2 separate regions of the Homo sapiens genome follow, and region 2 is linked to region 1. The links come from fine-mapping of genetic effects on gene expression. A gene starts in region 1. The other region holds a variant in brackets. All regions are shown on one strand. Distances are from middle to middle. Region 1 holds the start of HECA (hdc homolog, cell cycle regulator). Region 2 has its middle 38 kb from the start of CITED2.

Region 1 (2,908 bases):
ACAAAAATTAGCCGGGCGTGGTGGCGGGCGCCTGTAATCCCAGCTACTCGGGAGGCTGAGGCAGGAGAATCGCTTCAGACCGGAAGACGGTGGTTGCAGTGAGCCGAGATTGCGCCACTACGCTCCAGCCTGGGCGAAATTGCAAACTCCGTCTAAAAAAAAAAAAACAAAACAAAAAAGTGCCTGATCTACATAAAGAATGGCTTCAAAAGCTGACGCTATAAATTAAAAGCCAGATATAACAATTCAAATCTCCCTTCATTAAAATACCTACGTTGTCTTCCTGGAAAAAGTGCCTGACTAGAGGAATTCAAAGAACTGTCCAAATAAGTAAGTGTTTGCCCAGCACCTTATAACGAAAACCATGGCTCTGTAATGAGAACAGAAATCCTGTCACATCTGGGCCAGTTCCTAAGTGTCCCCTCAAAAGGAACATTCAGGCACTACCTAAGATTATGAGGCTTCCTTCTGAAAATGTTAAGCACAATGACATAGAGAATGATTTTTCTTTTCTTTCTTTTCTTTTTTTTTTTTTTTTTTTAACTCCGGGCTGAGAACGGAAGTCAAGTTCAGATTCTCTTCCTTCCTCAAGCAAGCCAAAAAATTAAAGAGCAAACACAGAGGCCCTAAATGTCTCGAGGCCTCTTCACCTGTGGCGATCGACGCAGCAAGCCTGGGTGTGCTAAGAATTGAGGCTCTCTCTCCTTCATTCCGGGGGTTACGGGTGGCCTTGGAGCACCGGGAAGAATTAACCGGTGCCTAAGTTTTCAATCGGATCATTCTTCTCAACTTGGGCGGCTCTTTCCTCCCTTCCTTCCTCCCTTCGGCCCGGCACACACGGCGGGGCAGTGCCAGCGCGGGCAGCAGGCTGGGCCCGAGGGCAGCGCTGCCGCAGCCGGGAGCCCCTCAGAGTGTGGGGCGCGGGCTGCCCCCCGCGCGGACACCGGGCAGGGGCCGCAGATCTGTCCCCGCCGCCAGGCGTGGGGACCGCGAAGGGGCAGCCGCGGCGGGGCGGAGGGGCGGGGTGAGCACTTCCTGACTCTCGCATTGTCCACGCACCGCCCGCGCCACCCAGGGCCCCGCCACCGCGCCGTCCCCGTCGGGGAGGAAGTTGGCGCTCGCCCCGCCAGCCCCGTCTTACCGTTTTTGGCATCGCCCGCGGCCGCAGCCCCCGCGGCGGCCGCAGCGTTCGCGGCGCCAGTCCCCGCGCCTCCGGCGCCCGCCGCGCCTCCGGCGCCCGGCGCGCCCGCCGCCGCCGCCCCGCAACCGGCCGCCGCCGCCAGGGCCCCCCCGGCCGCCGCTCCCGCCGCGCCCGCCGCTGCCAGGGCCCCGGCTCCATTTTCCTGCTCGTCGCCGCTGCTGTTGGCGCGCTTGTTTTTGCGGCCGCCTTTGCTGTTTTTGGGGTTGGGCATCTCGCTCGCTCGCGTCCAGGTAGGTGCCCGGCGTCAGCGAAGGCGGATCCCAGAGGCACGGCCGTTCCCGGCCCTGCGTGAAGCCGGCTCCGGGAAAGAACGGAGGGCGCGAGCCGGCGGTTCCCTCGGCTCCCGTCTAGCCGCACGGCCCGTGCCGCGCCATCCTGGCCGCCGCGCCCTCTCCGGCTTCCTGGAGCCGGCACGCGGCCACCCGAGGCTCGCAGCCGCGCGGGCGCCGCGGGCCCGGGGCGCAAGCGAGACGCTCCCGAGCCGGAGGGAAAAGGCGGGTCTCCGGCTTGTTTTGATTCGGCTGCACTGACACGCTCTGGGCCCGCCCCCTCCCGTGACGACACTGGGGATTCGGCCTGGCCGCGCCCACCAGGTGACCTCACGGCTGACGGGACCGCCCGCGTGACGTCACGCCCCGCGCGGGGCCTGCCCACCTCGAGTGACGTCATCCAGGCGTCCCCACCCGGGCCTCCTGGACTCCCGGGCGTTCATGAGCTGCCCTGCTTGACTTGCTCCACCCGCCAGTGCAGTGGCATGTGGAGTTCTTCGGTGGCCTCCTGGCCTTAATGTAATTGAGGCTTAGAACAGTATGGTCTGGAAAAATAAGCTGTGACTAGAGCAAGAATGGAAAACAAAAGATTTTGGATTAATAACTCATTCAAAGGCTATGCCTTTCAGTAACAGTAATTAAAGAAACAGGGGACCGGGCGCGGTGGCTTATGCCTGTAATCCCAGCACTTTGGGAGGCCGAGGCGGGTGTATCACGAGGTCAAGAGATCGAGACCATCCTGGCCAACGTGGTGAAACCCTGTCTCTACTAAAAATACAAAAAAAAATTAGCTGGGCGTGGTGGCGTGCGCCTGTAGTCCCAGAAACTCGGGAAGCTGAGGCAGGAGAATCACTTGAACCTGGGATCCGAGATCGCGCCACTGCACTCCAGCTTGAGCAACAGAGCGAGACTCTGTCTCAAAAAAAAAAAAAAAAAAAGAAAAGAAAGAAAGAAACAGGGTAGAGTTCCCAGACAATGGGGATGAACACCAGGGTCCTGAATGGGAAGCCTTCACAGTCTGGTGGTGAAAACAATTCACTCAAACAAGACCCATCATCCAGGGATGTAACTAGATGTTGCCTGGACTCTGAAGCAGTCCCTGCTTGGGGGGAACCCATCCCTATGCATAGGGCTGAGTTGTCCTGAAAGATAGTGAAAGATAGGTAGCCAGGTTATGAGCAGTAGGAGATTAGGTGACACCAGTGAAGACAGGCAATATGAGGGCAGGGGACCCCTGGGAAGAGCTCCCCTTGATCTCTTTCTGCAATTCTATTCTACCTTTTCGGCCAACTCCTTCCCTTCCTTCAGGTCTCAGCTCAAATACATCACTTCCACAGAGACCTTCCCAGGAGAGCTGTCAGAAGTTCCACCCTGTTATTTTCCTCCTCCATCTCTAATTATGTTGGCAATGTAGGTGTTTACTTATTTCTTGTATATC
Region 2 (2,908 bases), 200 kb before region 1:
GAAGAATCTCAAAATTATGCTGAGCGAAAAAAAATATATTTTTTCTCAGAATGCACACTATATTCCATGTATGTAAAATTCTAGAACACCAACTAATCTACAGTGTTAGAAAACAGATCAGTGGTTGCTTGGGGACTCAGAGGTATGGGGAGCAGGGAGAAGAAGGGGGTATTACCAACGGACATGAGGAAACTTATGATGCATATTTTCATTATCTTGATTATTATGCTGGGTGTATACAAATGTCAAAGCTTTTCAAGGTTTATAGTTTAATTATGTGCATTTTATTGTATGTCAATTTGGCCTCAATAAAGCTGTTAATAAAAATTTTGTCAAGCTTATGTTCCCCAGTAAATGAAATTTACTTCAAGTCACCAACAAAAAAACGTACAAGGTCCATTTTTCCTCTGTTCTGTGTTTACAACTGACAGTTAATATGAAAGACAGAATATCCAAAAATTCTATCTGCTGAGGGCCACAAATTATCAAGTCTCTTGTCAAGGGTGGCCAGCCACTGGTTAGTGGCTCAAGACACAAAATGCAGAACCAACACATTCAACTGACCATGATCATTTCTCCAGGGGTAATCTCAGTTCAAGTGTGCACTTCTGCCAGTCCAGACACTTGCTTCTTTATTATTATCCAAATGCTTGCACACATCTCACAAACTGGCACTAGTTCACCGATGATGATTTGGCCACTTTGGGAGAATTCCATATGTTTCCAAAATTGTCCATCTTACAGTGTTCTTAGAGCAAATGAAGTTTCTCTTCATTAGGACAGTAAAGTCCTAATGTTGAATGTACTATCTTTTTTGATTGGAATAAAGAAGCTTCTAAATAAAATTCTGATTCTCTAATAGCTTTAATTACAAGGAAAGCACCAAAAATCCATAGCTTATTACAGTCTGTCTTTTGATCCTGTGGCAAAGGCCTACCTTGCCTCACGGCTACAGCAGCCACTGCCAAATTCATGGCCGTGTCTGCTGGCACAATTCCAGGGGCTTTCTGGGAGCTCGTGCTACACAATTTTGGCCCTTAACTGAAAATACTCATTTCCAGCAAGCTGGTTTACTCCTGTAAGATCATCTTACCTCTTTGCAAATTACTAGCCATTATTATAACACTTTATACCTTGCTACTTCCACTCTCAGGAAAAGAAGAAATGCAAATAACTTGGGGTTACCTAATTCGTAACACCTCCCTAAAGTTAGATGCCACTTGGGCTAATTGAAATTTGGGGGAAGAAGCCTAAATTGAATGATTTTACCCTGAAACAATGTCTTAAAAATCCTAATTTGGCTAGGTTTATCCTGAATTAGAAGAATTAAATTTGTCATTACCAGGTAGAAATTTAGCATTTATGACAGAAATTAAATTTGGTTATAGAAAATTTTTAAAAATCTCTATTTCATGCACAATTAAGTCATGGACTGATCCATTTACAGCCACTAAAAAAGCATCCACCCCTACTAAGAGGAGGATCCAGCCTCCTGGTCTATCTCATTTGGGCAATGATGGAATGAATCATATAAGCTCCCAGACAAGGGTCTCAAGATAGAATTTAAAATAATTCCACTACAAGGATAAAGGAGATTATAGAA[T/C]AGATTGGGACAGAAATAGGCATGCTAAGCCAGAATTCACACAGGAGTTCATTTGACTCTAAACCTATGCTCTTTTTTTTTTCTGATGAGATGGTTCAGAGTTTGCGTTTCAACTCACTAGCTTAGAGTCTGAACATTATTGCCTTTTATGTAAAAGAGGGATTATAGCGATCTTAAAGGGTGAGAGAGCCTTTGTAAAGGCCTGACACTAGCGTTTGACTCATTTTATTTAAAATTATAGCTATTTATGTAGCAGAATGTCAGGTGATGTTGTGGAGAAACTGAGGAACCAACCAAAAAAAAAAAAAAAAGGTTATATACCAAATGATCAGTTTTCTGGCCAGAGAGAATTTGTATTGAAATTGGCAAGAAAGAGGCAGCAGGATTTTTGAACTGCCTGTACATGATTAAGTGAAAGTCAGAGGGAGTCAGAAAAGAAATTATACTTGCTTTCACAGCTCCGTTCTACAGCATTCTTCCACCACAAAAAAGCTTGCAGGTGATTTGTTCAGACCAGTTCTAAACGCCTGCAGAGGTAACAGCCCCACCTTTTGGAGATTATTACTTCACCTAACTCTGATGGGAGACAAGCTAATAGGACTTCCCATTAAGAGTAGTTCTGGATACTAAATTTACTCATTTTCCTCTGTAGTCTGATTCCACTTCTTTTTATTTTCACCAATGTTCAGTGATCTTGCTTTGACTTATTGTTGCTGTTGACCTTGACTCATGGCTTCAGGTTATTCTATTCACCATCTACCTGTCCCTAGTTCTTCTTCGCCCCCTCCCTAAAAACTTCCAAAAAACCTTTCTGAGAGTATGTTTCTAAGTAACAGCCTTCCCTGTATGTTACAGCCTCTAAGATTATGAAGTCAACACCGACATGCTTCTTTTGAGACAGATTTCATCATCACAGCAGTGAAAGAAACACAAGATGCGTTTTAAGGGTGACTTTTTGAAAGATGAAGATGGCTAGGGAGAAGTCTGTTGGATGGAAGATGAGCCCATTTGGCAAAGGATTAAATGAAGCAGCAAGTTTGATAAATCTGTTCGAGGTTTAAGAATATTCAGACACCTTTTCTTCCCAAGAAAATCCCCACACATCTCTTTTGGAACAAAGGCTTCTCTACAATGGTTCCAAATGATTCAGACATAACTTCCTGCATCTGTCACCAAAGGGATTTCTTCACTTTTAGTAAGACCATTAGCTGGCTTGCCAAATTCTTCAGCATAACAAAATTATACGTCATTTCTCTCTTGGGTATGCTGAAATGGTGAAAATTGCCCAGAGAAAATAGAAACTCT

What was found.
Region 2: its variant is fine-mapped to the expression of HECA in whole blood (GTEx, PIP above 0.99).

Annotation. Positions count from the first base shown.
Region 1 is chr6:139,133,901-139,136,808 of GRCh38, reverse strand. HECA (hdc homolog, cell cycle regulator) reads right to left here and starts at 1,729. Exons shown (of 4, transcript NM_016217.3): 1 at 1,142-1,729. The coding sequence starts at 1,412. RefSeq lists enhancers at 658-777, 1,643-1,937 and silencers at 888-1,157, 1,558-1,637, 1,748-1,937.
Region 2 is chr6:139,334,846-139,337,753 of GRCh38, reverse strand. No RefSeq gene overlaps it. Among named protein-coding and RNA genes, the nearest start is that of CITED2, 38 kb to the left of the region's middle. The variant T/C (reference allele first, on the strand shown) is at 1,604.